Homo sapiens: one gene and its partners. The protein of the gene in region 3 purifies or fractionates together with the protein of the main gene of each other region. This does not show direct contact. Each region holds a gene or a part of one and is shown on either strand. Other genes may lie near its edges. The genes, in order: CDK20, DCAF1, CFAP20, ACIN1, SPINDOC, HNRNPUL1 and MRPS31.

What was found.
Region 1: the proteins of CFAP20 (region 3) and CDK20 purify together in Homo sapiens (affinity purification with mass spectrometry; 3 studies listed by BioGRID and IntAct, with this or other methods). This does not show direct contact.
Region 2: the proteins of CFAP20 (region 3) and DCAF1 purify together in Homo sapiens (affinity purification with mass spectrometry; one large-scale study listed by BioGRID and IntAct). This does not show direct contact.
Region 4: the proteins of CFAP20 (region 3) and ACIN1 purify together in Homo sapiens (affinity purification with mass spectrometry, with the first as the bait; one large-scale study listed by BioGRID). This does not show direct contact.
Region 5: the proteins of CFAP20 (region 3) and SPINDOC purify together in Homo sapiens (affinity purification with mass spectrometry; one large-scale study listed by BioGRID and IntAct). This does not show direct contact.
Region 6: the proteins of CFAP20 (region 3) and HNRNPUL1 purify together in Homo sapiens (affinity purification with mass spectrometry; one large-scale study listed by BioGRID and IntAct). This does not show direct contact.
Region 7: the proteins of CFAP20 (region 3) and MRPS31 purify together in Homo sapiens (affinity purification with mass spectrometry; one large-scale study listed by BioGRID and IntAct). This does not show direct contact.

Annotation. Positions count from the first base shown.
Region 1 is NC_000009.12:87,967,931-87,971,926, forward strand, and holds part of CDK20 (cyclin-dependent kinase 20), read right to left. Parts: intron 3,406-3,996; coding exon 3,217-3,405; intron 2,968-3,216; coding exon 2,846-2,967; intron 2,716-2,845; coding exon of another isoform or gene 2,701-2,715; coding exon 2,638-2,700; intron 1,990-2,637; coding exon 1,866-1,989; coding exon of another isoform or gene 1,845-1,865; exon of another isoform or gene 1,844-1,844; intron 1,420-1,843; coding exon 1,264-1,419; intron 938-1,263; exon of another isoform or gene 640-937; intron 244-639; coding exon of another isoform or gene 165-243; intron 1-164. UniProt on the Homo sapiens protein: Required for high-level Shh responses in the developing neural tube.
Region 2 is NC_000003.12:51,415,705-51,420,404, forward strand, and holds part of DCAF1 (DDB1- and CUL4-associated factor 1), read right to left. Parts: coding exon 4,030-4,700; intron 3,173-4,029; coding exon 2,974-3,172; intron 2,495-2,973; coding exon 2,412-2,494; intron 1,168-2,411; coding exon 1,083-1,167; intron 1-1,082. UniProt on the Homo sapiens protein: Acts both as a substrate recognition component of E3 ubiquitin-protein ligase complexes and as an atypical serine/threonine-protein kinase, playing key roles in various processes such as cell cycle, telomerase regulation and histone modification.
Region 3 is NC_000016.10:58,115,244-58,119,588, forward strand, and holds part of CFAP20 (cilia- and flagella-associated protein 20), read right to left. Parts: intron 1,709-4,345; coding exon 1,629-1,708; intron 910-1,628; coding exon 798-909; intron 215-797; coding exon 26-214; intron 1-25. UniProt on the Homo sapiens protein: Cilium- and flagellum-specific protein that plays a role in axonemal structure organization and motility. Microtubule inner protein (MIP) part of the dynein-decorated doublet microtubules (DMTs) in cilia axoneme, which is required for motile cilia beating.
Region 4 is NC_000014.9:23,081,013-23,085,712, forward strand, and holds part of ACIN1 (apoptotic chromatin condensation inducer in the nucleus), read right to left. Parts: intron 1,203-4,700; exon of another isoform or gene 825-1,202; coding exon 736-824; exon of another isoform or gene 1-735.
Region 5 is NC_000011.10:63,822,675-63,826,254, reverse strand, and holds part of SPINDOC (spindlin interactor and repressor of chromatin-binding protein), read right to left. Parts: exon of another isoform or gene 3,465-3,580; coding exon of another isoform or gene 3,407-3,464; intron 3,121-3,406; coding exon of another isoform or gene 3,099-3,120; exon of another isoform or gene 608-3,098; intron 1-607. UniProt on the Homo sapiens protein: Chromatin protein that stabilizes SPIN1 and enhances its association with histone H3 trimethylated at both 'Lys-4' and 'Lys-9' (H3K4me3K9me3).
Region 6 is NC_000019.10:41,291,493-41,296,192, reverse strand, and holds part of HNRNPUL1 (heterogeneous nuclear ribonucleoprotein U-like protein 1), read right to left. Parts: intron 3,949-4,700; coding exon 3,682-3,948; intron 1,856-3,681; coding exon 1,733-1,855; intron 1,636-1,732; coding exon 1,507-1,635; intron 1-1,506.
Region 7 is NC_000013.11:40,764,002-40,768,701, reverse strand, and holds part of MRPS31 (small ribosomal subunit protein mS31), read left to right. Parts: intron 1-1,668; coding exon 1,669-1,956; intron 1,957-4,700.

The DNA of each region.
Region 1 (3,996 bases), on a different chromosome or scaffold from region 3:
GTGGAAGAGAGAAAGCAAGACAGAGGAATGAGGAATCCTGGAGAGAGGTTGCAGATCTGAAGAGTCATGAGGGAAGGCCATCTGAGAAGTGACATTTAAGCCAAGACTTGAGACATAAGCAAGTGGGACATGAGGCTCCAGGCCAGGGACAAAAGTGTACTGACCCCTGGGGCTGGAGAGGAGTGAGCACAGGGCACAACAGCAGGCAGCGTCATGAGGTGATGGCACCCAAGCATACGACATCTGTGGGTCACAAAAAGGACCCTGGCTTTTCCTCTGAGATGGAGCCACAGGAGGGCCCTGGCAGAGAAGGAATGTGTCCTGTTCTACTTGGATAAAGTTACTCTGTCTGCCAGGTGGAGAAGAGATTAAATGGGATGAGGGGAGACCCAGATTCTGGGAGGCAACCCAAGAGATAAGGGTCACACGGCTTGGGTACACTGTGGACACAGAGCCCACAGGAGCTGCTGACAGTGGAGACCAAGAGGGCGTATGTAAACACACGCGGCTGGTGCTGAGTGCAGGGAGGGGACAGGGACCCCTGAGAGACACCCTGACACCTGTCAGCCCATGCTCCTGTGGTCATCGTCCTCCCAGGCCTACCAGCCATAACCAGCCTTCCTGGGTCCTCTCTTCCAGGCCTCTGCCCACCATTTCTCTCTTCAGCGAACACCTCCTCAAACATCTCATGCTTAAACCTGCCCTCCACCAGGAAGCTTTGCTTGACCCCAAAGTCGGCCTTGCCTCTCTCCTGGGGCTCCCACAGCTGGAGAACATGACCTCTTGTGACCTTTTGGACCTGGAGCTACCTCACCACCAGGAGTGCCCCGCGGAGGTAGGACTGATTGTTTACCATCTGTGCAGGGCCCAGGACAATCCCTGCATGTGCCAGATGTGCAGAAAATACTTGCTAATGGAATAAAGGAATGAGTCCCCAGTGACTCTCTTACTGTATCTGCCACAGGGTCAGGGGCAGCCCAGAAACCTGCACTCCCGGACACGCGCTCTCCTGAGAGTTGGGCATGCCCCTCGTATGGGCCACCCTCAGGGGAAGTCTGGGGATGTCCAGTGGGGTCTACTCATGAGAGGCACACCTGCTCCAAGGCCCCTGTCCCCTGGGTTCCAGATGTCTGGTGCTGGTCCATGCCAATCACAGGTTCTGAGGGTCGCTGATGTGATGGGGTCACATGGCTACCAAGTACAGAGTACCAGGGTGATGGGGAGGGGAGCTGAAGGAGCAGAGACTACAGCCTCTCCCCCTACCTTGGAAGCTGCGATGCGCTGGTGAGGAGGGTAGAGAAGGAATTGACCCAGCAGATCCAATGCCTGGGGAGAGACGTCAGGCAGCACCTCCTCCAGGGGCATGGGCACCTGCTCCTTAAAGGAGATCTTGTTGTAGTCCGGCAGCTCAGTGAGCTCCTGGGCCAGGGAGAAGGAACAGGGTACAATGAGAGTAGTTCCCGACCCTTGCCATGCTCTCTGCTGTCAACTCTCAGCCCCTAACACACACTCACATGGGGGGTGCTCTCCCATCCATGTGTCTCCCTGACCCATCATTCATTCACTCACCCACCCCTGTATTCCTTCATCCATCCCCTTGCCCTCTCAGATGACGACTCTGTGCACAGCTTGCTGAGACACTGCACATGTGTGTACTGGGGTGAAAAGGGACAAAGGACAGGATCTACCCCAACCCAAATGACAGCAGGAAGGAGGAAGCCCTGAGTTGGGCCAGGACAGTGGTCCCTGTCCATCAAGGGGGGTTGGGGCCAGGAGAGAGAAGGTTCAGGGGAGGGAGTGGTTACTTGCTGTTGGGAGTGGAGTAAACCTGCCCCACACCCACCTCACCAAGGGCCCCTACAAACCGGCCAGACTTGAGGGTTTGGGGTGCCCAAGATGCGAAGCACATAGCAAAGCTGTTCAATATCGTTCTTGCCCGGGAAAAGGGGGGACCCATTCAACAGCTCCCCCATGATGCAGCCCACAGACCTGTGGACACAGAGCCCCAAGCAGGTCAGAGATCTCCCACCATGGACCACAGACCCACCCACAGAGCAGCTCTAACACTGCACTCCAGGGCAAGGCCCCACAAGCCAGCCCTGGAGCCTCACGTCCAGAGGCCCAGTCCCTGAACCCTCAAAGCCCTCAACCCTAGAACCCAGAGCAAAGCCCCAGCTGTTCCAAGACTTCTCGGAGACTCCTGCTCTAGGACACTTCTGGGGCAGACCTGCAAACCTGCCCCAAATCTCAGACCCATGGGCACTGCCAACTATCTTCTTGCTGCAAAACAAGCTCAGAGCTTTCATGTCCAAGGACACAGGCCTCTGACCAGCTCAGAGATGCCATATCCTAGGATCTAACTCCAGCACATATCGGCTCAGACCACCTCCCCATCTAGCCCAGAAAGCTTCCCACCTGGGACCACCATTCTCATCCCACCTGGCCCCTACCCAGCTCGAAAACATCATAGTGAGGAACCCCAACCCCAAAGTGCTCAGAATACCCCAACCAGGGAAGACACCCTTAAGGAAGCCTAAACTCCCACCAGGGAAAAGACCACCAAACAGCTCAGAGACCTCAGAGCCTAGCAGAAATCCATGAGCCATGTTACCCTTTGACCACCCACAGGGGTCTCACCACAGATCGACGCCCTGGTCATACTGGCGGGCACCATACAGGAGCTCGGGGGCTCGGTACCACCTGCGAGGAAGAGGGCTGGCAGGCACTGGGCTGAGAAAAGGATGCCTGGGGAGGTGACCCCAGCCCCACAAGCAATGTCTGGAGAAAAGGCCCAGAAGCATCTCTTCCCCATGGAGAAGACTGGAAGGGATCTGGCCCTCCCTACCTGGTGGCCACCTGGTGTGTGTAGAGGCGGCTGCCGTCTGGGGAAAAGACTCGAGCCAGGCCAAAGTCCGCTATCTTGAGCTGGCCTGAGGCGCTGATGAGCAGGTTGGCAGGTTTCAGGTCCTGGGAGTACCAAAAGAAGCATCAGTCCCTCCAAATCCCCCATAGGACCTTGGGACAAGCGGGCTTGGCAGTCTAACCACTCAGGTCAGCCCCGGTCCCCACCTCCTCCAGGGCCATGCCCTGGCCACTTACCTGGAGGCCTTGACCAGCTCTGTCCCAACTTCTTATCACACCTTTTACAAGGGCTAGCCCCATCCCCAAGCCAAGTCAGCTCCCCAGACCCCATGCCCGGCCTATGCTGAGACTGACCCGATGTACAATGTTGTTGGCATGGCAGAAGGCGACACCCTTGAGCAGCATCTGCAGGTAGCTCTTGACCTGTGCCTGGGCTAGTGGCCTCTGGGCATGGCGCACCACCTCGGCCAGATCCGACAGCATGAACTCAAAGGCCAGCACAAAGCCTCCACCGTGTGGGAACACAGCCTTCAGTTGTACCACCTGTGGGCAGGACATCTTGTTAGCCCCCAGACTCAAGTCACCAGACCCTCTCTGTGACCCTGAGACCCCAGCCCATGCCCTGACAGAGGACCCTGTATCCAAAAAGACAGTAAGCAAAGAAGGTGACGTGGACCTGAGCTAAGAATCAGAGAGCTCGATGCTCATGATTTGCTCTGCTCTCCTGAGATAAGGTGTGCCCCCACTCTAATTCTCCATGAACACTAAAAGGTCTAAAAAAGGTCATTTAGTGGCACCATCTGGTCCGCCCACCCAGCCTACCCGCCTGAAAATCATCTGGATGGTCACACATGAGATGGACAGGTCTCCTCCTGTTTCCTCTAGAACCACCGAATCCCAGCACCAAGGAAAGGACACCAGGAATCCCACCTTTCCCAGTGCTGGGACAGCTACAGACACATCACAAACACTGAGGCCAGTACTGTCAGAGGAGCCAGGCTACACAGAGAGTGAGCTGAGAGACAGGACTCTTAATGAACTCACAGCACAAAGGACAAACAGTTTAACAAATAAATGAATAAAAGGGATATATTCAGATTCTGTAAGTACAGGAACCAAAATACAAGGGGGCTG
Region 2 (4,700 bases), on a different chromosome or scaffold from region 3:
AGCTTCCTGAGTAGCTGGGACTATAGGTCCCAAGCCCACCAAGCTCAGCCAATTTTGTTTATTTTTTGTAGAGATGGGGGGAGTCTCTCTATGTTGCCCAGGCTGGTCTCGAACTCCTGGCCTCCCACCTCAGCCTCCCAAAGTGCTGGGATTACAGGCAGAAGCCACTAAGTCTGGCCAGCTCCCAACTTTTGTATTCAATCCCCATTCTCTACTTGAATGTCTAAGAGAATCTCAAATTTCATGTGTCCAAAATCCCAGGGCCAAGGTCCTCCATTTCTCATAGCCTCTACCATGCCTACCCAGGCCCAAACCCACAGCTCCTCTCATGTGTCAGGTGGTACAACACCCTCTGACCTGGAAGGCTGCTCTTGCTTCTCTCACAAAAACCAGAGTCACACTTCAGGAACTTTACATCCACTCATGTATCCTCTACTCACCCACCAGTGTCTTCATCTCACTCAAAAAAAAAGCTAAAGGCCCTAACTACCACCTACAAGATGCTACCAGATACAGGCCCCTCACTGACCTCAGCTCTCCTCCCACCTCCCAAGCAAGGGCTTTTCCCTTGCCATTTCCTGTGCCTTACGCTGTTCCTCCAGGTATCTTCCTGAATCTCGCGTTTCCTTCAAGGCTCTGCTTAAACATTACCCCATCAGTGATGCTGTCTACCCTAGATAAAAGAGAAGTCCCCCACACCACCACCAAGCATTTCCTACCTCTTACCCTGCTTTCATTTTCTCTGAAACACTTACCACCTAAATTTACCGTATATTTGCTTCTTTATTGTCTCCCCAATGAGGGTCCATAAAGGCAGGGGTTTCATTTCTAATCTAAAACTTACTAAGAATTCAAAAATATCTGTGGTGCTAATGACATCTTTCTCAATGTCACATTTAGCCCTTATACATTTTTCCCATACAGCTCAGAACTATATTATCATACTTTTAGATTCTAACTAGAAGGAATATCACTGATTTCTAGTTGCCCAAAGGACTTAGGTCCTCACATTCTATCAAGAAGATTTCAGTATGAACAAATGGGTATGATCAGCTTGAAAACAGTGGTTCTTAAGTACTTACGTGGGCAATGTCTCCTTTTGTGCCGATGACCCGATCCTGGGAGTGCTTACTGAACTCAACATAGTGATCTTCTGTGAAGGAATGCCTATGGACAAACAACAGGAGCACTGAAGTGACAGATCTTCAGGACATATTCCTGCAACCAACTGAAACACAGGTGACCCCCAGCCTCTTGCACAATCACACTCACCTAAAGATCCTGGACTCCCAAAGAGGAAACAATCATACACTTAGATTACAAAGAAAATTCCTTCTATCACCTTAACCAAGCAGATACAAAATAATGAATGGGAATTCCTTAGAGAAATGACAAACAGGGCACATGTGCCTTTGAAACACGCAGCAAAGGGGCCAGGCATGGTAGCTCACTCCTACAATCCCAGCACTTTGAGAGGCTGAGGCAGGTGGATTGTCTAAGCTCAGGAGTTCGAGACCACCCTGGGCAACATGTCGAAACCCTATCTCTATCAAAAATGCAAAAAATTAGCCAGGCGTGGTGGCATATGCCTGTGGTCCCAGCTACTCAGCAGGCTGAGATGAGAGGATCACTTGAGCCTGGGAGGTGGAGGTTGCAGTAGGTCATGTTTGTGCCACCGCACTCCAACCTAAGTGACAGAATGAGACCCCGTCTAAAGAAGGAAAGAAAAGAAAAGGCCAGGTGCGGTGGCTCAGGCCTGTAATCCCAGCACTTTGGGAGGCCAAGGCCAGCGGATCACAAGGTCAGGAGATCAACACCATCCTGGCTAACACAGTGAAACGCTGTCTCTACTAAAAATATAAAATATTAGCCAGGTGTGGTGGCGGGCGCCTCTAGTCCCAGCTGCTCGGGAGGCTAAGGCAGGAGAACGGTGTGAACCCGGGAGGCGGAGCTTGCAGTAGGCTGAGATCGCGCCACTGCACTCCAGCCTGGGCGACAGAACGAGACTCTGTCTCACAAAAAATAAAAAAAAGAAAAAAAAAAGGAAAGGAAAGGAAAGGAGAGGAGAAGAGAGGAGAGAGAAAAGGAGGGGAGGTGAGGGGGGAGGGGAGGGGAGAGGAGAGGAGAGGAGACACAGCAAAGACTGCAATGTCCTATGTGAACATGGGAAAATACATAGATTCTGGGTCGGGGTCTGCTGCATAATGAGAATGTATATACCTCATAAAAGTATCTAGGAATTAAGAAAGATAAAGTCTTATTAAACATGAGTCTTAGATGAGGAAGAGAGAAGTTAACAATAACCGACAGCATCCTCTTTCCCCAAAAGGCTTCCAGTCTAAGAACCAAATGAAGGGGGGTATAAACTAGGTAAATAAAGCACAGACTAGGTTCCAAAAGCAGATACATACTTCATATCAAATACTGACTTCATTCCCCAAAGTGCAGACAAAGGCTGGCTCCAAGTAGCAGATGTCAGCAGCAAGGACCCATCCTAAAAGAAAAAGGCGCAAGGTGGGTAACCACGTATTTACATACATGCAGATGTCACTACCTGCCATTAGCATTTTTAAAGATTTGCATAAAAATGTTGTTGAATTAAAGAGACAATTTTATAATCCCCAGAAACCAAGAAATGGTCAGAAGCCACTAGGATTTGAATACATACACCTATAGTGTCCTATAAAATAACCAAACTTAAGAGAATATTAAATCCTACTGAACTAGCCACAAAAATAGAATAGATAAAAGGGAGGGGGGAAAATGAGAAGATGTCAAAGATGGTTCCTTTCTTCCTACTAACTTTGCCATATTCCTCAGTCTCCATCTGAAATATGAATTAACCTCAACTAGACTTTCCAGTTGAGGACTCATTTAAAAGAGAGAGCTCAATAAAGGGTAAGCCTCCTTTACTCTAGTTCACCAATTCATCTTGGAAGAATGACTGAGAGCATCCTAGGAAGGAACCCTTACCCTGGAAGGTTCAAGATGTGTGATGGCTGAGTTGTGACAGTTATAGCTGGCCTCCTCCTGTCCACTAAACACATTATAGAGCTTCAGCTGCCCTGTGCAGGTGCCAAGCATCAGGAACCGCTCCCGTGCTGAGAATGCACAGCAGGTGAAGCCACTCTCATCTTCATTGGCTTCCCGGAACACTGAAATAGGACGGAATCTAAGCAAAAAAAAGAGAGAATCACAGGCAAAGAATGTGCAGGGACTCAGAAAAAGCAAACTGCTAGGATAGAAGAAAAAGCACAGAACATTAATGTTTCAAATGGCTTCTTCCAAAATCACAGTGACCTTCAGTGCTTTTTATTTTAAATAAGAAAAAGATTTCCACTTACAAATTTAAATAACAAAAATTCCCATGTTTAGGCCAGACACAGTGGCTCATGCCTATAATCCTAGCACTTTGGGAGGCCGAAGGGGGGGTATCAATTGAGGTCAGGAATTCAAGACCAGCCTGGCCAACATGGTAAAACCCCATCTCTACTAAAAATGCAAAAATTAGCTAGATATGGTGGTGCCTGCCTGTAATCCCAGCTACTCAGGAGGCTGAGGCAGGAGAATCACTCGAACCTAGGAGGCAGAGGTTGCAGTGAGCCAAGATAGCACCACTGTACTCCAGCCTGGGCGATAGAGAGACTCCGTCTCCAAAAAAAAAAAAAATTCCCATGTTTAAAACCTGTGATCCCGTAACCTTTATGTAAGATTTGTCAAGAATCAGAACAGGAAGCAACTTGCACCAGCACAAGTTTGGGAGCCTCCTTATGGACAGTAGTAATGAGGGGGTGTGGGTTCTAGAAAACATACTAGTTGAGATGAGAACACAAACGATTATATCAATATACTGCCAACAATCACACAAGGAACCCATGGTTGACAAAAGGTGGTACAATTACATTGTTCAAGTATTACACAAAGTAACAATCAGTGGTATTTCAGGACAACTATGCTGATACTGCCCAGTTTGATTTAAATAAAAGAATCATTCCAATTCCCAGGGAGTAAGAAGGGGCCTCTTCTTACCTGCTAAAGATAAGGTGCCTATCAAAGCATCCGCCATCCACCCCTCCATACTTTGGAAATGATGCCCTGCGGTTTAGCCTTGACGTAAAGTTTATTGGCGCTTGCCGCCTCTGTTTTGGCTCAGGACATTGGTGAGGAGTAAAGAGGGAGAAAGGTGGGCAGGTGGCAACTGGATTCTTGCAGCGAGCATGTTGTTCTCTAAGATACTCTGTGATTATACTGTCCAGCGTAGGTGGGGAAGGAAGATGTCTGTCCAGCTGTTTTTTTATGGCTGGGCTTTGGCTGTAGGCACCATGGTCCGACTTCTGCCGCAACACTCTGATTTTCCTGCCATTGCAGGGTGATGGCCTCTCTCTGATAAAACTGATTCTACCAATCAAAGGGGAGTTGCCTGCATAAGATGGGCCGGGCAGAGCTAGCGGACCCTGGGGGGGCCGTGGCTGAGGATGAGCAGTAGGGGCAGAAGGCGCAGAGGCACCCACAGCAGCATGGCTGCCCAGACGAGTTGCAATGCCATTAGCGATACGAGGGGTTCGGGGTAGAGAGACAGGAGAAGCAGCAGCAGTGACTGGGGTAAAGGCAGAAGAATGGGAGGCAGCAGTCATGGGCAGGTCAGCCTCTTTTGTCAGCACGGTTGCTGTTTCTCCAAGCCCTTTAGAAATAAGATGGTT
Region 3 (4,345 bases):
GCTCTATCTGGGAAAGGAGCAGTACCTGCACTCTGAGGGTCTCGATGTAATTGGTGCCGTATGCTCGCCGTGTGAAGTCTAGCAAGTTGAACTGAATCTGGTTCCAGCCGTCATCCAGCCGCATGGGCATGGTGCAGATGAAGGGTTTGACCCGGGTGGTGCTCTGGTAGTTACTTGCCCGAAAGCGACGACGCACATTCTTGTCATCTAGTACCTGTGAAATACAGAGAAGAAGCATCACACTAGCTCTGTCTTGGAAGAAGCACACAACCTTGTCCAGACAAGGACCTGAATTCCCACAGCTTGCTTTCCCAAGGCTGAGACTTAGAGGAAAATAAACAGACCAGACACAGGTCATACACTGCATGCAGATGGCCCGGAAGTAGCAAGTTTATCTTGTTTGTTGCCAAGACAACACCAGCTGCTTATGACATATAACACAGTCAGCAGGCTCTCAGACCATAGAGTATATAAATGTTCTTCCTTTTGAAAAATCAGAAATACTAAAACAGAACAGCCACCCACTATTAAATAATCACTCCCCAAATGGATACCACGCTAACTCTGACACTTTGAAATTACTAGGTTTTCTAGGTGCTGTTTCTTTAAAAACCTGATTAAATTTTATTACTAATATCAAATTTACATAACAAGGACTGCACTGGGCTTATACTAGAAGCAGAAAAGAATACATGCAAAAGGATAAAGATACTTTGTAGGGTCACTTTTTCCCATCAGTTCAAAGGCTATCACTTTGGTATAGCCAAGAGTGGACACATTCATGTACACATACTTACCTGCACTTCGAAGGTAAAATACTTCTTCAGGTTTTTGATAATCATGACAAGGAAAGGAAGTTTAATTCCCAGCGTCTTCTTGGGGTCTGCAGGGCATGTGATATATGTGGTGCTGTAGAGAGAGGAAATACTAATAAACACACTCCTGGACTCTCTTCCTTTGTGGTATGCACAACAATAACACACGGTCCAAGAGGATACACTGGAAAGCAGATCTAAAAGATTCAGACACGCCACCCAGTGAATCCCTCAGCCCTAAGTCAGCGGCTGCTTTAACAAACGCTGGACCCAGAAACAAAAGCTTAACACAGGACTAGACAGCAGCAATAAAATATCTGAAAAACAAAGCCAGACAGTGGATCTTAGAAGCTCCTCCAGTGAGAGAAGACCTCAATTCTGGTCCAGGGGAGCCATCGAATGACAGAAAACCAAAACTGAGACCTCTATGGCACTGAAAACCACACTGTCCACCCACTGGATGAGCTGTACAACACTGCCCACTCCCCACCCCAACACACACTTTGGTTAATAATATAGCTAATACTGACATCGTGCTTACTATGTGCTAAGCAAGGCTTTACGTGTTTTATATATATTCATTTATTTACTCCTCGCAATAACCCTATAAGGAAAATGTACTATTATTCTGCCCATTGTACAGATGAGTATGCTAAGGTCTGGGGGATTCAGTAACTTGCCCATGGTAAGCTCTAAGTGGCAGAGATAGACTCACATCCGGCACTCTGACTCCGCAGTCTGTGCTATTAACCTCTATGACGTACTGCCTCCCTAGTATATGATGTCTCTGGGAGAACAGAGGTGGCAACCTACCTTACATTTGTCCCTTCAATCTCTAGCACCAGGGACTGGATGTCATTATCAGTGATTCTTTTGATGTGGCCATTCCGTACCTACAAGAAAGAAAATTCGATTAGTACTGAAATATCTGACAAGGCTGAATAGGACTATTTAAAGAAAACCACGGTAGCCCAAGAGGCGTACAAAGAAATTTGTGACACAGCACACTGAAGCTTATATGTAAGTAAGCCAAGCTATTACCTCTAGACAGGGTCACACCAACCACCAAGGGAATCCCAGGTAACTTGGCAATCCCTAAATCTGGGGAAACTTCTCCCCAAATACATCAACTCAATTTAGATTCAGCTAATATCTACTGAATGCCTACTATGCACCAGGAATATCACACACATCCCCTTCTCACTTAAGCCTCACACAATAAAAACAACAAGGCAGGTGATACTGTTTTCATTTTACAAATGTGGACATTGGCACCCCGGAACTGCAAATGCCAAACCCTAAGTAGGAGACTAAGGATTCAGCAGCCTTTCCACTGCCTCATACTGCCTCGTAGATTTCTTTCTTTCTCTTTCTTTTTTCTTTTTTCTGAGACGGAGTCTCGCCCTGTCGCCCAGGCTGGAGTGCAATGGCGCGATCTTGGCTCACCGCAACCTCTGCCTTCCAGGTTCAAGCGATTCTCTTGCCTCAGCCTCCTGAGTAGCTGGGATTATAAGCGTGCAGCACCATGCCCAGCCGATTTTTTTTTTTGTATCTTTAGTAGAGACGGGGTTTCACCATGTTGGCCAGGCTGGTCTCGAACTCCTGACCTTGTGATCCACCTGCCTTGGCCTCCCAAAGTGCTGGAATTACAGGCATGGGCCACTGCGCCCGTCCTGCCTTGTATATTTCTTTGGCCAGAAAAGCCAAAGAAAAGCTGAGTGTTACTGAGGAGGGCAGCAACAAAAAGTGAAAGCATTCCTCCCCTGGAGTTATCCTGCTTCATGCTTCCCTATCTGCTTTTGCCTAATTTTCTACTTTTTAAAGCAGGAATTCAATTCCCATCTGTGCCACACACAGATGCCTTCTTTAGCATTTTCAGCCCACACTGACCTCTCTTTTCTCTGATTTGTTTTTCTGGCTCATGTTGTCTAGACGACATAATTTAGCACCTCATCCTACATTGTTTTGTATTGTTTGCTGCATATGTAGGAGGTAGATGATGGGGAGGAATCAATATTCAATACAGATTCCTCCTCTCAAAATATTTAGGAAAGAACAATTATCTTCAAGCATTAAACTTTTAAGCAACTAATATGGACAGAACAGAGATATGCAAAGGCACTTTCAAAACAGGGCTGGGGCCAGGCACAGTGGCTCATGCCTGTAATCCCAGCACTTTGGGAGGCCAAGGCAGGAGGATAGCTTGAGCTCAGGAGTTCAAGATCAGCTTGGGCAACATAGTAAGACATTGTTTCTACAAAAAATTAGCCAGGTGTGGTGGCGTGCACCTGTAGTGTGCCTATAGTCCCAACTACTTGGGAGGCTAAGGTGGGAGGATCACTTGAGCTCAGGAGGTCCAGGCTGCAGTGAGCTGTGTTTGTGCCACTGCACTCCAGCCTAGAGGAGTAGGTGACAGAGCAAGACCCTATCTCAAAAAAAACAAAACAAAAAACGAAAAAAAAAAAACAAAACCAAAAAAACATGGCTGGGGTCAGGCATGGTGGTTCACGCTTGTAATCCCAGCACTTTGGGAGGCCGAGGCGAGAGAACTGCTTGAGCTCAGGAGTTCAAGACCAGTCTGGACAACATGATGAAACCCCATCTCTACAAAAAATTAGCCAGGTGTAGTGGCACGTGCCTATCGTCTCAGTTCCTCAGGAGGCTGAGGTGGGAGGATAACCTGAGCCTGGGAGGTCGAGGCTGCAGTGAGCCGTGATTGTGCCACTGTACTCAAGCCTGGGCGACAGAGTGAGATCCTGTCTCAAAAATGAACAAACAAACAAAAAAACAAGGCTGGACTATTAGGGCTGAATGGAATAACATATGAAAAAGATCAACTAGGTTTAGAACAGGAGACATCAGAAAGACAAACATACGGTCTTTCTTTGTGGAAAGGGCTGTGTTAGGCTGCCATAATCAATGACTCAATCACACTGACTAAAGCTCCTCTTGTTCACTCATCAGCCTGCTGATTACGATTTGGCTATTAGACTTGCATATGGGGATAAATCAGTGTTGGGTCTGGTAGTTTTATTTTTCAACATAAATTATTAATAATATGTTTCTGTTTTTAGACATTAGTCTCTGTGAGCTCTGTCACTGTGAGTCTGATCCACTCATGGTCTGCCTGGTGTTCTAAAGGTGACATCTGATGTCACTGCCCACCTTTTCCACAACTGCAACCAAGTCTTGTCTCCTTAAAAAAGAATAAGCTCAAGCAAGAGCCAAGACCAGTTATGAAGCATCATTTCTATCTTCGACAATGCTTAGCACAGTGCTAGCCATAAACTAAGCGTTCAAATATTTGCTGACTTCTGGAATCTGTCACCCTAAGAGCTGGCACATATGAATAGGTTCAAGGAGGGTTTTAAAAATTCCTGGATAACACATCCCCCGTGGACTATTATAGGAAGCCAGAGATCTGGGGCATATCACAAAGCCCACAGGGCCGCCAGCATGAAGAATGCTTCCACAAATGGGTGCCCATTGTCAGAGACAGAATACTGGGCTAGACGGGACCCCAATCCCTG
Region 4 (4,700 bases), on a different chromosome or scaffold from region 3:
TGAAGCTACTTGTATGTAGTTTAAATTTTAGCTTCAAGCACCCCCTTTTTTTTTTTTTCAGTAAAATATTAGCAGAACATCTGGAAAGTAAAAGGGTGGATAGGGGGCTGAAAGGAACTAACCTACTATCAATTAATACGATTATCTTTTTATCATTTTGGTATATTTCTTTTTGTTCTTTCCTCTAATCATTTCCTTTGTACAGTCATAATTACACTACACATAACATTTTTGTATTCTGCCCACTTAGTGTTATATAACTTTAAAGCTTTGATTGAATGGTTAATTATGTCATATCTTGTCTAATAATGTGCTTTAAGAATACAGAGCAGCCTGCTAATTTTCAAATTTAAACTTTTAAAAAATATTCACTTAGAAATCTAAAAGGCAGAGCAGATCTAAATAAAAAGACAAAACGAACAACAAAAAGATGACAAAGAGGAGAAGGAAGATAACCACAAAGAAATCTAGAGGCCAGGCAGTGGCTCATGCCTGTAATCCCAATCCTTTGGGAGGCTGAGGTGGAAGGACTGCTTAAGCCTAGGAGGTCGAGGCTGTAGTAAGCTGTGATTGTGCCACTGCACTCCAGCCTAGGCGACAGAGCCAGACTCTGTCCCAAAAAAGAAAAACAAAACCCCTAAATGTAGAGACATACAAACTCAAAACAAGTCTGAAGAAGAGAAGATATCCAAAGCATTACTGAAGAGGTAATGCTTTAGGAGGTATCTGAGTTACCTGTCTGACCCTAGATGATCGTCTTTCTCCTTTCCTTGGTTTCTCATCATCAGAGTCACCTTTCTCTTCAGAAATTGAGGAGCTTTTTCCTATTGAATGAAAAAGAATCAAGTCAGATTCATGAAGTGAAGACTCATTCATGGCTTTTTAAAAATCAGGCTTTCTAATATCCAACCAATTATAGCATATGAGCCTATCAAGACATATCTGTATCGGTTTCTTTGACTTCTACACTAAAGAAAAGACTACAAAAAGCCCTAACTAGGTCAGGGTCTTATTGGTAATTCTTGGTGTGCAAGTCTAGAATATTTTCAACACCTCGAAGCCAATTCACATGTTATAAATAACTCAAATAAATGTAAAATAATTTCCAGGGGCTTCAAACTGTCTAGCAGGGATGTACAAATATGAAGTGTACTTATTTCTACAAAGTGTTCTTACTCTGAATAAAGTTTAAGACTTCATTATGTTCTGTATCCATTTTTTTGGATTGCCTATTACTACTACTTTCTAATTTCAACCAAAATATTATGATGAAATATATGAATTTGCACAATAACAAACTCAAGAAATAAATACTTAGAGGAATGTTTTTCAGCGCCCTAAAGTTCCTGAAATTACTTCAAGCCAACTGGATGGGGTTTCAGAATTGGGTCCTGTCTATTAGGTTTTATGTATTAGAGCTCAATATTTTTTTTTTTTTTTTTTTTTTTTCTGAGATGGAGTCTCACTCTGTCACCCAGGCTGGATGCAGTGGTGCAATCTCGCCTCACTGCGACCTCTGCCCCCTGGCTTCAAACCAGTCTCATGCCTCAGCCTCCTGAGTAGCTGGGATTACAGGTGCCCACCACCATGCCTGGCTAATTTTTGTATTTTTAGTAGATATGGGGTTTCATCCTGTTGGACAGGCTGGTCTCAAACTCCTGACCTCAAGTGATCTGCCCGCCTTGGCCTCCCAAAGTGCTGGGATTACAGGCATGAGCTCACATGTTTTTCTTTTTTTTTTTTTGAGACAGAGTTTTGCTCTTGTTGCCCAGGATGGAGTGCAATGGCATGATCTAGGCTCACCACAACCTCCGCCTCCCAGGTTCAAGCGATTCTCCTGCTTCAGCCTACCGGGCAGCTGGGACTGCAGGCGCACGCCACCATACCTGGCTAATTTCGGTATTTTTTACAGAGGCGGGGTTTCATCATGTTGCCTAGGCTGGTTCGAACTCCTGGGCTCAAGCAATCCCCCCGCCTTGGCCTCCCAAAGTGCTGGAATTACAGGCGTGAGTCACCGCACCCGGACTAGGTGAGATTTTTTTTTTTTTTAAGGAAAAAAAAAGTTCTATTAAAAAGCTTGGAAACCACCAATCTAGGTTATCCTGAACAATAAATCCATGTAAAACGGAAAGAAAGTTTCACTCAAATTCCATGAAGGAAGGTAACTGGGTAAATCACTTAAGTAATTTGGGTCTCAATATCTTTCTTTTTAGACAGTGTTTTACTCTGTCACCCAGGCTGGAGTGCAGTGGCATGATCATGGCTCACTGCAGCCTCAGCCTCCAGGGCTCAAGTAATCCTCCCACCCCGGTCCTCCCAAAGTGCTGAGATTAAGGTATAAACCACTGTGCCCGAGTCTCAAATGTCATGATTGAGAAAAAGGAGGGGCTGCACTAGATGATTTCCAAATTTCCTACCAGAATTAAGATCAACTAGGCGGCCGGGCACGGTGGCTCACGCCTGTAATCCTAGCACTTTGAGAGGTCGAGGCAGGCGGATCACGACGTCAGGAGATCGAGACCATCCTGGCTAACATGGTGAAACCCTGTCTCTACTAAAAATACAAAAAATTAGCCAGGCGTGGCGGCAGGTGCCTGTAGTCCCAGCTACTCAGGAGGCTGAGGCAGAATGGCGTGAACCTGGGAGGCGGAGCTTGCAGTGAGTCGAGATCGCGCCACTGCACTCCAGCCTGGGCGACAGAGCGAGACTCCGTCTCAAAAAAACAAAAAAGATCAACTATGTACAGTAGCAATACTAACATCAATGAGAACCAGTTTAGAAAATAGCAGGAAGATAATTATATTCCAGATACTTGATCAGCTAGATTGGACTCAATGTTAATACAGTACAAAAGGTTCTGTACACAAAACCATGTTGTATAGTAATAGTGCAAATAAAGCAGATGGTATGCAGCTCTAACCCAAGATCTTCTCTCTTATTTTTTTTTTTTTCTGAGAGAGAGTCTTGCTCGTTGCCCAGGCTGGAGTGCAATGGCACGATTTCGGTTCACTGCAACCTCCGCCTCCTGGGTTCAAGTGATTCTCCTGCCTCAGCCTCCTGAGTAACTGGGACTACAGGCGCCCGCCACCACGCCTGGTTAACTTTTGTATTTTTAGTAGAGACGGGGTTTTGCCACGTTGGCCAGGCTGGTCTCGAACTCCTGACCTTGTCATCCTCCCCCTCCTTGGCCTCCCAAAGTGCTGGGATTACAGGTGTAAGCCACCATGCCCGGCCTTCTCTATTTCTATATCCTTACAATCTAAAATGAACTAGGCGAATGCTTCTGTAATAATAATTAAAAAATCAAAATGAGGCTGGGCACGGTGGCTCATGCCTGTAATCTCAGCACATTGAGAGGCCGAGGCGGGCAGATCACGAGGTCGGGAGTTTGAGATTAGCCTGGCCAATTAGGTAAAACCTCATCTCTACTAAAAATACAAAAAAAATTTTAGCTGGGCGTGGTGGCGTACGCCTGCAGTCCCAGCTACTCAGGGGGCTGAGGCAGAAGAATCGCTTGAACCTGGGAGGCAGAGGTTGTAGTGAGCCGAGATGGCGCTATTGCACTCCAGCCTGGGCGACAGAGCGAGACTCCATCTCAAAAAAGAAAAAAAAAAAAAAAAACCCAAAATGAAACTAATGAAATCAATTAGAAGACTACACATATTTTGTAAAACTTTACTTCATGATCATTTGATTAAAAGGACCTCTGAGTATATACCATTTCGTATCTGGGTAAGTGAAGAAAGATTTGTGTTATGGTTGTTCATACAGGATATATGATTAGAATATATAGTGAAAGGCCAGACTCTTTAGCAAACATTTGAAGACATCTGTAAGACAGTAGTGCAGTGAAATGAAATACTCATTTCATAATTCAGTGATCTGAAATAGGCTAAGTTATAAAATAAGTAAAACCAAAATAAAAAGTTTTCATAAATGTTAGGCAAAGTTCCTTCACAAGTATCAGTGAAAGAAGCTGATTTATCTCACACACACCAAAAAAAAAAGGCAAGTGCAAGGTTGGTCAGAGATAAATGTGTTAAAGTCAACGCTGGGCGCAGTGGCTCACGCCTGTAATCCCAGCACTTTGGGAGGCCGAGGTGGGCGATCACGAGGTCAGGAGATTAAGACCATGGTGAAACCCCGTCTCTACTAAAAATACAAAAAAAAAAATTAGTCGGGTGTGGGGGCGGGTGCCTGCAGTCCCAGCTACTTGGGATGCTGAGGCAGGAGAACGGCGTGAACCTGGAAGGCAGAGCTTGCAGTGAGCAGAGATCGCGCCACTGCACTCCAGCCTGGGCGACAGAGCGAGACTCCATCTCAAAAAACAACAACAACAAGAACAACAACAACAAAGTCAAATAACTGAGTTGCAATTTTAAAATTAGTATGTACAAGCAAAACAGCCTCTTTATCTACCTACTGTGAATTATATGCTATTTATTGAATTATAATGTTATTTTTGATACTGTAAAACTGCAGTGATAGGATTTCTGGATGATTACTCCTCTGGAAGAACTTGTAGTAAGTCATCAAAGAGATCTGGAGAAATGAACAGGGCTGTTCAGAAAGTTCTGGTCATCACTGTTTTGCAATAAAAGCAGAAACTGGAGGCGCCTCAGACATGAAACAAGAAATTAGTCAGCAATGCAAAATATAAAGAGATGAGGAATCTCTAGTTCCTTGGAAAGAGCTGATGT
Region 5 (3,580 bases), on a different chromosome or scaffold from region 3:
AAAGGTTACGTTACATTAGGGCTGGGCATGATGGCTCATGCCTGTAATCCCAGCACTTTGGGAGGCCAGGGTGAGCAGATCACTTGAGGTCAGGAGTTTGAGACCAGCCTGGCTAACATGGAGAACCCCTTTACTAAAATACAAAGAAATTAGGCAGGCATAGTGGTGCACCCCTCTAATCCCAGCTACTCAGGAGGCTGAGGCGGGAGAGTCGCGTGAACCTGGGAGGTGGAGGTTGCAGTGAGCCAAGATCACGCCACTGCACTCCAGCCTGGGCAATAGAGTGAGACTGTCTCAAAAAAAAAAAAAGTTACATTACATTGAAAGGCAAAAACAGAAGATGGTGATTTCAACTACTGCACTGTCTATATTGGGAAGGATTTATTTGTGTGTGTTCCTTTTCTACCCTGTTTTTAGAGACACGATTATTTAAAATGTGGCACAGAAAACAGGTACAATTTTGCTGTGCGATGTGCTGGAATTTAAAATGACTTAGTGGCTGCCACCCCATTTTTATCACCTACCAAATGCTATTCTGTGTTCCCAGAACACAGTTTGTCTCCCTGATAAACTATAGGCTCCCTGAAGGAACACTGAACCCCATTTGTTCATTAATTTGACAATAATTTATTGAGTACTATATGCCCAATGCCGTTTGGATTGCTAGGGGTACAGCGGTGAATGGAGCTCCCTAAGTGGCCTTCTGGGACTTCACATTCTATTTATCAGAGCTAATAAATAGGATAAACAAATAAAAAATGCAGTATGTTATATATGGACAGATGCAAAGTAGCAAAGTACACCAGGGAAAGGAGATAGGATAATAGGATAGCAGAAAGCTGACAGGGGACCACAGACACAGAGGGAGTGAGGAGCCAGTGAGGCAGACAGGGAGGGAACAGCATTTTGAGCAGAGGGAGGAGCAAATGTGGATGCCCTGGTGGAGCACGCTGGCTTCCCCAGGAACAGCAAGGCCAGTGCCTGTGCGGGGAGCGGGATGTGGGGGGAGAGGTCAGGAGCCTGTGGGGAGCTCACTAGTCACCATGAAGGCTCTGGCTTTTATCTGGAGTGCAACAGGAGCAGCACAGAAAGGCCATGAGTAGAGGAGTGACTGGATCTGACTTGTGTTCTCAGCAGGGACACTCTGGCTGCTACAGGAGAGCAGAGCATAGCGGGCAAAGCTCAGCAGCCAGGAGACCTGGCTTAGGTTTGTTACAGGAACCAGGCGAGAGCCGGCCCTGACTAGGGTAGCAGCAGTGGATGTGGTGACAGCAGTGTGAGCTCTGAACTTGTTTTGGAGGATCGGCTGCTGGACAGATGCTGGGCTGGAGAAAGAAGAGGATGACTGTGTGGGTGTGGTCACAGCAAACTGAAGCCTGGGGCTGCCTGTTCACTGGGAAAGGGAAGATTGTGGAGTCTAGGGGTAGGGTGCATTGGTGAGACTGGGGGTTCAGTTTCAATGTGGCGAGTTTGAGATTTTTTTTTTTTTTTGAGATGGAGTCTCGCTCTGTCGCCAGGCTGGAGTGCGGTGGCACAATGTTTGAGATCTTTTAGACACCCATGTAGAGACGCCACCTGGGCAACTGGAAAAGAGGATGGAACCAGGAAGGAGCAGCCAAGGTGGGCATTATGAGCACACACATGTCATTGAAAGCTGTGAACCTGGATGAGATCTCCCAGGGAGCGAGTACCGACACTGACCCACGGCTGCGGATACTTAAGCACGTACTCATTCACCAAACACATAAGCCGGGCCTACGCTGTGCCAGGCACTGTTCTGGTTACCGCAGATATTATAGTGCAGGACGCAAACACCCTAACCTGCAGGCCCTTACATTCTAGAAAGGGAAAGGCAGACAATGATACGACGTGTTCCAACTCTGGGAGCTGAGAGTGAGCGGCAAGAGAAACTGAGAAGGAACAGTTAGTGAGGGAAGAGGAACACCAGGCGAGCAGCTGCCTGAAAAGCCAAGGGAAGAAAGTTGTCTCCAGGAAGGAGTGAGTGATCAGCCCACCGTAACCACGAGATCATAAAGAGAAGGACCGGCCAGGTGCAGTGGCTCATGCCTGTAATCCCAGCACTTTGGGAGGCCGAGGTGGGCGGATCACCCGAGGTCAGGAGTTTGAGACTAGCCTGGCCAATAGGGTGAGACGCCATCTCTACTAATAATACAAAAAAATTAGCCAGGCGTGGTGGCGCACGCCTGTAATCCCAGCTACTCAGGAGGCTGAGGAAGGAGAATCGCTTGAACTTGGGAGGCGGAGGTTGCAGTGAGCCAAGATTGCACCACTGCACTCCAGCCTGGGCGACAAGAGCAAAACTCCATCTCCAAAAAAAAAAAAGAAAAAGAAAAACAGGCCAGGTGCAGTGGCTCACGCCTGTAATCCCAGCATTTTGGGAGGTTGAGGCGGGCAGATCACGAGGTCAGGAGATCGAGACCATCCTGGCTAACACAGTGAAACCCCGTCTCTACTAAAAATACAAAAAATTAGCCAGGTGTGGTGGTGGGCGCCTGTAGTCCCAGCTCCTTGGGAGGCTGAGGCAGAAGAATGGTGTGAACCTGGGAGGAGGCGGAGCTTGCAGTGAGCCAAGATCACGCCACTGCACTCCAGCCTGGGCGACAGAGCGAGACTCCATCTCCAAAATAAAAAAAAGAAAAACACCAGCAAGACAGAGAGGCTCCTCTTTCCATTACTTGTCAGTGGGTCATTGTGGCCCACCTCCTCTCCTGGCCTGCACACTCTCCCCATCCTCCTCTGGCAAGGTCCTCAGAAGGTTCTAGAGTCTTCCTGGACTACCTCACATTCACATTCATCAGCTCAGCTAACCTGACCACAGGTGGCCTTTTCCAACTGTTAAATCCACGATTTTTACACCTCTAATTTTTTTTAAAGTGGCAGGATCTTTATTTAAATAAAGTCTTCAGAGAACTTCAATACGTACATAACAACACAGAAAGTAGAGACATTTTGGTCGAAGCCTCACAGGTTTCTGAGAAATCTGTCCAAGCTTTGGGTTCGTGAGATCGTCTGAAACCACAGGTCCAGAGCCTCTGCTCCGCAAAGAACCGCCACGGGGGCCCCTGGTTTTTAAAGATTTACTGCCTCCAGCCTATATACCTGGACACAGAATTTTGGGGGACAAAGGCTGTCTCACTCATGCCATCTCCCAGGGTGCCTCCCTCGGGCACAGGCTCCAGGAACACTTGTGTACCAGTGAGGTATCCTCTATGGTTTCCCAGGCATCTCCAACCTCCACGAAGGCTGCCACTGCTGACAACACCCTACAATTGCCTCCGCCCCCTCAGATCACTCAAGCAGCCTGCTGAAGCCCCTTCCTCTCAGACTTTGCCCACTCACCCCAAAGAAACCTAGAATCTCAGGGATTCTCTTCTCATCTACTCACCACTCCAGATAGATGGAGTTTGCGCACAGGGTACCCCAGGACTTGAAATGAGGGCTCCCTTTCGAGAATGAAATCAGAAGACCCATTAGACAGTGGAAGAGGTCAGCCATTTAGAGCAGGGATCCACCGGAGAGGACCAGGAGACTCGGGACACGCTCAAGTCCAAGCAGCACA
Region 6 (4,700 bases), on a different chromosome or scaffold from region 3:
CTAGGCCACATATTTGAAATGAGTTTCACAGCTGATTTAACCAGCAAACCAAGAAAAAGACAGGGAGGAATACTGGCTAGGGTATCCAAAAGAGGTATGTATCCTCAGAGTGTTAAAATGGTATTACTGCTCTCCCTTTCACGACAATGAGTCCAACTGGGGTCAATACAGACTAAAAAAATTCTTGAATGCCCCGACAAGGAGGATCAGGTAAAGTGAGGCCAAGGGTTTAAAAGACAAATCTTCAAAGCGGAGAGAACACTGATTGTACACAATATGAGCTGGGGGGATAACCACGGATGGCTTTTAGACTATCCTGTGCTCAACTGTTTTGTGTAGGATCCTCATTCCTATGTGAAGGCAACTCGGTCTCTGGCGATTCCTTTCTAACAAGCAAACTACCATTCTGACAAAGCCAAACGCTGTCCCCACCTCCACTCTTATCAGGAGCCCTTTGAACTCATGGTCACCAAGTATCCAGGCCTACACGTATGGAAGGCACTTCAGGAAGGCTACAAGGGCAGGGTGTTACTTAGTTTACATATTTGCTCACTCACAGGTTCTTAAGAAAGCACAAATGCAAGGCTGAAGGGAACAGAGGCTCATTCACAGATCCCCAAACATAGAAAATAAGGAGACACCCTTTGTTACTTGTGAAAGCCTTCAGGACAAATGTCAATAGGCAATGACGTTGCATAGGCAATAACCATGTGGAACTCATTACTCTGAGACAGGAATCTGTAATGATTTTTGGGTCACTCATCCTTTTGAGAATGCTGAAAGATAGGGACAAAAAACTGTTTTTTTTTCCCTTCTTTTTCATAAAAAGGATACACCTGCAGCTGCATACAATATTTATGTTCAAATACAAAGGTTCCAAGGTCCCTGATGTTAAGAACTCCACCATTAACTGAAGTGTAGGTAGAAAATATGACTTAGGTATGTACCTGCCAGTCATACGTATTTGTGAAGAGAAAATGACGGAAGCAATAATAGCATTTACCTTACAGCACTGCTGTTGGCATGAAAGCTACTCTACCTATTCTGTAGAGTATTTAACAATAATCACCAGCTACTAAGTGCCAGGTCCTGCGTTAGGGGTGCAGATGGTATTGAGATCCCTGTTTTACAAACCAAGAGATGGAGATTCAGAGAATAAAGTCAGCTGCCCAAAGGCACAGAGCTAGGGAGTAGCCGAGCTGGCATTCAAGCTCCAGTCTCTCAGGCTTGGAAATCCATACTCCTTCCATTTTGCTAAACAGTTCTTACCTGATGTTCTTTGGGGCTGCTGATGAGTCTGAGTAAGTAGGCCTAGATCATGATCCCAGTCCAGGCTCAGCTGTGTGTAGTACCATGTCATCATGTATGACAAGGTCTGACCCCCCCGACTAGCACAGCAGTCCATCATCATTACGGGGGAAAAAAGAAAGGGACCAGAGGGAGATTCTCAGGCATGCAAGGGGTCCCCTCCCTTCTCCTGAGGACACAATGGTCATCATTAAGTACCTGATCTAGGATATAGTTGCGTTTCTTGCGGGCAGCAATCTGGATGAGGCGGTTGAGGCACTGGGTGGCCTGCTGGATCAGGACATCCCAGCGGCCAGCATAGTTCCGCTGCCGGCGTAGGCCCATCACCTGCGGGCAGGAATTGGTGAGGGGTGAGTGATTTTAGTTGCAGGGCAGCACTCAGTAGGTTGGAGGTGAGTAAGGAGAGTCCAGTGGCTGGCCTTACCCGCATCTTATCCATGATGGCATTGGTACCCAGGATGTTGTACTTCTTGGAAGGGTTGGAGGCTGCATGTTTGATGGCCCATGTGGTCTTGCCAGCAGCAGGCAGGCCCACCATCATCAGAATCTACAAGAACAAGACAGGGAAGGTGTTGCGGCATGGTGGTATGGCACCACTTGGCTCGGTGGTGACTGTGAGTGTGACTCTGGACCTCTGAGCTGTGGCTGCCTCTACAAAGCGGAAGCAGTAATACCATCTACCTCACAGTACTGGTATCGGGATTCAAAAAGATCAGGCTTGTCAGACTCTGAGCACAGTGCCTGGGACAGGGTGAGCATTAAGTCAAGTGCTGGCCAGGCACGGTAGCTCACGCCTATAATCCCAGGACTTTCGGGGGAAAACAAAAACAAAAAACCAAGTGCTGTCATCATTAGCATTTATAGTATTTTGTTTTTTTGAGACAGGGTCTCACTCTATTGCCCAGGCTGGCGTGTAATGGCCCAATTACAGCTCACTGCAGCCTTGAACTCCCAGGCTCAAGCAATCCTTCTACATCAGCCTCCAGAGTAGCTAGAACTACAGATACAAACCATCACACCCAGCTAATCTTTTTCTCTCTTTTTTTGGTAGAAATGAGAGTCTCCTTATGTTGCCCAGACTGGTCTCAAACTCCTATACTCAAGGGATCCTCCTCCCTTCTTGGCCTCCCAAAGTGCTGGAATTATAGGCATTTGCCACCAAACCCAGCCCATTTACAGGATTATGTGACCCATTCCCCGCCCCCTGCAATAGCCCAGGGAAGGCTGTGTACTGGGACTGGCCCCATGGAGTGGGTAGAAGTGGTACAACTTTCTTTAAGTATGAAATAGGAACAGAGCTGCACACACAAGGACATGAATTGTATCTAATCAGTACATTTAGAATTTGGTAAACACAGATGCATCTTAAATGCCCGACTAGGGGGGAGTGGCGAGTTTGTAAGGCCATTAAGAATGACGTTCATTCCCTTGAAGGATTTTTAAAAAAGAAAAAATGATGTTCAAAGAGAGGTTTTTATGTGATGGGATAAAGCTCACAAAATAATGTGAAGTGAAAAGAGCAGGGTATCATAATGCTTATACCATAGAATCTCAATGATAAATGTTTGTGAGCATAAAACAGGCACTTAGACATTAAAAAGAACAGATGAACTCCAAAACTCTGCAAGTAAACTTATTTGTAGATGATGGCATTATGAAAATTTAAATTTTTTACTTCTTAATTTTCTAGAACAAGCATAAATAACTTACACATACAAGAAAAATATTGTTTTAAGAAAAAAGACACTAGTATAGCTCTTGGAATCAAATCTTCCCAAAGGCCATTTATCTTTTGATAGCTCTGGGTGAGAGGTGGAACTTACTCAACCTCCTTCAAGAACACTCGGTGGGCCAGGCTCAGTGGCTAAAAAAGTTAGCCTGGCATGGTGGCATGTACCTGTGGTCCCAGCTACTCGAGAAGCTGAGGTGGGAGGATCACTTGAGCCTGGAAGGTCAAGGCTGCAGTAAGCCGTGATCGCACCACTGCACTCCAGCCTGGGTGACAGAGCGAGACCCTGTCTCTAAAGAAAAAAAAAGAACACTTGGTGGCACAGTGCACTCCCCAAGAAGCGCCTAGTGTCCTTTTCTGCTGTAAGAAAAGCCTCCTTTTCCCCTATTCTGGCCTCACTTAAGAAGAAGATGCAATCTTTCTGAGATTTAGGTAGCCTCTCCGACTTCAACTTAGGTCACACCAACACCCCTCACCTCACACTCAGAGCAGCTTTTCAGCTCTGAGTCCAACCCTGAGGAGCTGGGACAAAGTGGCCACTTGCCCCAAGGCTACTCTCGCAGCAAGTCTGTGTGTGTGTGTGTGTGTGTGTCTCCTCTGTCTTGGCAGCAAGGTGGCCACCAATACATTCTGGCCCCACTCACCTCACATTCTGCCTTGCTCTTTGGTCCAACGGTGCCCCGGATACGCTCACTAAGGGGAAGGTGCTGGATGAAGGTAAACCCCGGGAGGACAGAACAGTAGGGCTCTGCTCTCTGTCCGAAGTTGAACTCCACTGCGCAATTCTTCACCAGGACATGAGGATAGAGGGCCTGACCCCCCAAGGCTTCCTTCTGGATTCGGAAAGCAATGCCCATCCACTTTCCATTCTTGGTAAAAGACAGTTCCACGTCATTTCCACATTCAAAATCCTAGGAGAAAAAGCCAAAGGAATATGATTGCCAACTCTTGCCATAGGCACTGGGAGTCAAATGTGAGGACAGTAGATGCAGGGAGTAGAATGTGGACAGCTTTCCAGATTGAAGTGCATCCTTCCCCAACATACAGGTAAGCTGGGCAGCATCAGTGAACATCTCAGAGAATGTCCAGCCCAAAGTCCTCCTTGCCTAAGACCCCAAAGTTGGTGGATATGAAGCAAGTAAGCAAGAGTTTTTTTTTTTTGTTTTTTTTTTTTTTGAGACAGGGTCTCACCCTGTCCCCCAGGCTGAGTGCAGTGGCACAGCTAGGGCTCACCGCAACCTCAAACTTCCAGGTTCAAGCAATCCTCCCACCTCAGCCTCCTGAGTAGCTGGGACTACAGGCATGTTCCACACCTGGCTAATTTTTAAATTTTTTTGTAGAGACAGGGTCTTGTTATGTTGCCCAGGCTGGTCTTGAAATCCTGGACTCAAGTGATCTTCCCACCTTGGCCTGCCAAACTGTTGGAATTATAGGCTTGAGCCACTGCACCTGTCCTAAAGCAGGTAATTTTAAGAAGCTCCAAGTATTTGAGTCTTGTGCCTAGACTGAGATGAAGACGAAGGAAAAGGTGGTCCAGTCCTGTCCTGAAAACTGATGAGGAGACAGGTGCAGTGGCTCACGCCTATAATCCCATCACTTTGAGCAGCCAAGGCAGGAGGATGCTTGAGGCCAGGAGTTCAAGTACAGCCTGGGTAACAGAAAG
Region 7 (4,700 bases), on a different chromosome or scaffold from region 3:
ATAGATAATTTCTGTGGGCCAGGTGTGGTGGCTCACACCTGTAATCCCAGCACTTTGGGAGGCGGGCAGATCGCTTGAGCCTAGGAATTCAAGCCTGGGCAACATGGCGAAACCCTGTCTCTACAAAAAATTAGTCCCAGTTAGGAGGCTGAGGTGGGAGGATCACCTGAGCTCAGGGAGGTCAAGGCTGCAGTGAGCTGAGATCACACCACTGCACTCCAGCCTGTCTGACAGAGTGAGGCCCTGTCTCAAAAAAAAAAAATTTTTATGCATATTAAAGACTTCCAGGGGATTTAGCGGGGTGATGCCTGTTGGAGGTCAGTGCCCTCCTAGTTGGGGGGTGGGGGCTAAGCTTAAAGTTTGAGAAGCAGTGCTGTAGCACGTCAGCTTCATAAAGGCAGGGACCATGAAATTCTTATTTACTAATATATTGTCAGTACCTAGTATAGTGCCCACCACAGAGTAGATATTCACTATATTTAGCAAATAATTTTTTAATATACCCTCTTACTGAAACTAACACATTCAGAGTTTTGAAAATTCTTCAGTAGTCAAATACCAAAACAAATTTTTAACCCCACAGAATAAAATTGGATATTTGGATTACTTAGAATTAGGAAATCTTTTTGCATGAGTCTAATATAGATGTAATCATTTGTGTTGTTCTTTTTCATAAATGTATCTAGTGAAGAAAGCACAAATGACATTTCTAGCCATTGATTATTCTCTTTTCTGTTCCATTCTAGCTTTCCTTACAAATGGTTATGGGTTAAGTAGCATGTAGCTCGATGACAATGTTGATCAGATTAGATAACACCCACTCAGAAAGTTTTTTTGAAATAATCTTTTTTATTGATAGAAATTTATTTTTGTATTGTTTAATGATAACTTTTAAAGAGGTATTGTGTTAAGAGCAAGGACTTGCAGTCAGTCACATTTGGGTTTGAGAATAATAAATTGTCATTTATTAACCATGTCAGTGTTTTTCTACCCAACCCTGGGGTAAATGGAGGGAGGGAACAGACTTGGGAGCACCAGCACCCCCAGACCTCCCCTGGCCACCCCAAGGACCAAGTGATCAATATCTCAGCACACCTCTACTTATTTGTGGCACACAGTGTGTTTTAGTTCTTAGTGAGCTGTGAGCTACATGACTTTGGGACTTCTCTGATTTTCAGTTTCCTTATCTGCAAAATAGAGACCTTAGGGAGTTAATGTGGGTATGAGAAATGTAAATAAAGTATATTTCACAAGATGAGACATGTAGTATATGCTAATAAATGGTAAGTTGCTGCTGTTATGGTTGTTAACAATAATTATAAAAAGAGACCAGCCTGGCCAACATGGGGAAACCCCATCTTTGCTAAAAATACAAAATTAGCTGGGCATGGTGGCACATGCCTACAATCCTAGCTGCTCGGGAGGTTGAGGCAGGAGAATTGCTTGAACCCTGGAGGCGGGGTTTGCGGTGAGCCAAGATCGCGCCATTGCACTCCAGCCTGGGCAACAAGAGCGAAACTCCGTCTCAAAAAAAAAAAAGCAACGGAAAGGGCTTGAATTGAAAAAAAATCTTAGATACATAGTTTTTTACTTTATTGTAAGTAAGTTTTTTACTTTATTGTAGACTGCATTGTATTTTTCATTTTTTTCTTTAATGCATCTTTCCAGGACAAAAAATAACATCCAAAGATATTTTGGCACTAACAGTGTGATCTGTAGCAAGAAAGATAAGCAGTCTGTTCGAACTGAGGAGACTTCCAAGGAGACTTCAGAGAGCCAAGACAGTGAAAAGGAAAATACGAAAAAAGACTTGTTAGGCATTATTAAGGGCATGAAAGTTGAATTAAGCACAGTAAATGTACGAACAACAAAGCCCCCCAAAAGAAGACCACTTAAAAGTTTGGAAGCTACACTTGGCAGGCTTCGAAGAGCTACAGAATATGCTCCAAAGAAGAGGTAAATTTAATTGTAATTCAGATGTTGTTTGAAACTCCAGTAAGCTTTTTGTTTTGGTAAAAAATATTTTTAATACAAGTACTTGGGAAATGTTGAATTAATGAAGAATAAATATCAGCTTGTAAACACAGGGACTCTAATAATTACTCGAGGCTGGGCATGGTGGCTCACACCTGTAATCCCAGCACTTTGGGAGGACGAGGCGGGCGGATCACTTGAGGTCAGGAGTTTGGAGACCAGCCTGGCCAACATGGTGAAACCCCGTCTCTACTAAAACTACAAAAGTCAGCTGGGCATGGTGGTGCGTGCTTGTAATCCCAGCAACTTGGGAGGCTGAGGCAGGAGGACTGTTTGAACCCAGGAGGCAGAGGTTGCAGTGAGCCAAGAATTGTGCCACTGCACTCCAGCCTGGGGGATCAAGCGAGACTCTGTCTCAAACAACAACAACAACAAAATAATAATTACTTGAGAAATGCTGTTATTGTATTATATTTAAATAACAAGAGGATATCTGTACACAATCCAGAGAAAGGAAAGGAGAAATGATCTCATTGAGAATTTCACACACTTACATATTTATCAGTGTTATTAACTGCCATGTAATTGCCTCTTTAAGCTGTTAATTAACAATATCATTTACATCTTGATTTGAAGGTAGCTTAATGTCTGTAAAGGACTTGCTTATTTAAAATTTTCCATTTTAAAGATTTCTGGAATAAAGTTTTAGCATGTTGATTACAATTGCTTTATATGACTTCCCTTGATCAATACCTATCAGTGCTTTCAGCTTTCTTGGTAGTTTCCTCAGAGTATTAAAATTATTTGTGTTTGTCAAAAGAGTATTATATTTAATTCTAAATGCAATCAGTGATACTTGGCATTGTGTGGTAGGTTAAATGGCAGTATTTTTTTTAGTGCTATGTAATGATGTATTTCAATGATGTCATTAATTCAAGTAGTAAGCTATGTGGCTTTAGGATACTCATCACTGACTTCTGTTACCAGAACAAACAGATTTTAATAGTCTTCTGTTTCCCAAACTGATTTAACATTTTAATGGAACTTCTTGGTTTCTACGTTATATCAAAAATACCTCTAGAAAGTATGATTGGGTAGTAGAGTAAGCTAATTCAGACTATCAGTACCCATAATAGGTACTTCCTCCTCCTCCTCCTGCTTTTAGAAACAAAATGGTTATATATAAGTATATGGAAATAAATAATACAAACATATATAAATACTTTTCAAGAATGGCATTTTTAAAGCTCCTAGACCTGTTTATGATCCATCATGCTCTTTATTATAATTATAATTGAATTAACGATTACAGAAATGGTAAAGTGAGTTGAATGCTTTGGAAAGAGTCAGTAAAGGTCATTTAAAATTTTTCTTTCCAATTAGGTATGAGTGAGGCAAACATACATGTGTGGGAAGATCATACACTTAGATTGCTTTGTAAGCTTTCTTACATTCTTGCTCCACTTTTCCACTTAAACTGAAATTGAAAATACTGGAGGATGGGTGTGATGTATATAAAAGATGTGTCTTAGAACCTCTATTAGTGGTCCTATGTTCAAAGAAGAGGCTTTGGTCCCACATCAAAAGACTGGTGAATGAGGTACATTTGTTTTGAGTTTTAAAAAGGTGTCTTTTAATGATTTTTTCCTCCCCTCCCTCTTTTTCAAGGACTCCAAGGTGCACGGGATTAGGTTAGTCATGATCTTTGCTTCATGAGACACTGTCATCATTGCTTCATACATAGACTGCTTTTCTTTGTTTGTATTAAATATTGAACCTTCATTGATATGGTTACCATGGCTACACTACCTCCCAAACTTAGTGGCATAAAACATTCATTCATTATGCTCACAGATTCTGTGGGTTAGCGATTTGACTAGAACACAGTGGGGGAAGGCCAATCTGTGCTCTGTGATGTCTGGGGCCTCAGTTGGAAGACTTAGAAGTCTGAGGCTGGAATTGTCTGAAGTTTGCTCACTCATAGGTCTGGCAGTTGCTGCTGGCTGTCAGCTGAGACCTTATTAGCAGAAACACCTACATGTGGCTTTCTTTGTGGGCTGGGCTTTATCCCTGCATGGTGGCTGGGTTCCAGGGCGGGTGTCTCAAGAGAAAGTGAGCCAAGAGAAAGTTGTATTTTCTTTTTAATGACCTAGCCTTGTAATAAGATTGGACATTACCGTGTTTACCCTTGTTCCACATTGATTTTCCTGGGATATTTGTTTTTATCACAACCACTCCTGAGAAACAATCTTGACAAAGATATAATGTCATTGATAGGAATGGAGCAATATACAGTTGGTCCTCTGTATGTGCAGGTTCTGTATCCACAGATTCAACCAATTTCTGATTGAAAATATTAAAAAAAAATACAATATAACTACTTACATAATTAGGTATTATAAGTAATCTAGAGATAATTTAAAAGTATTCGGAGGATGTGCATTACTTATATGCAGGTACTCTGCCATTTTATGTAAGGGGCTTGTGCATCCATCCTGGTGGGGGCCAGAGCTGTTCCTGGAAACAATGCCTGTATCCCACGGCCCCACCTCCCCCCAACCCCTGCAGATATGAAGGGACTGCTGTAATGTTACTGTGAACTGCCTAATTTACATCATTATTGACATGGTTGTATTTTCCTGTGCTGCCCCAGAGTACCTTAGGACACAGTTTGGGAGCCAGGGTCCCAGGTGGAGAGCTTGTGTCTTCTCTACTCATCTTTAGCT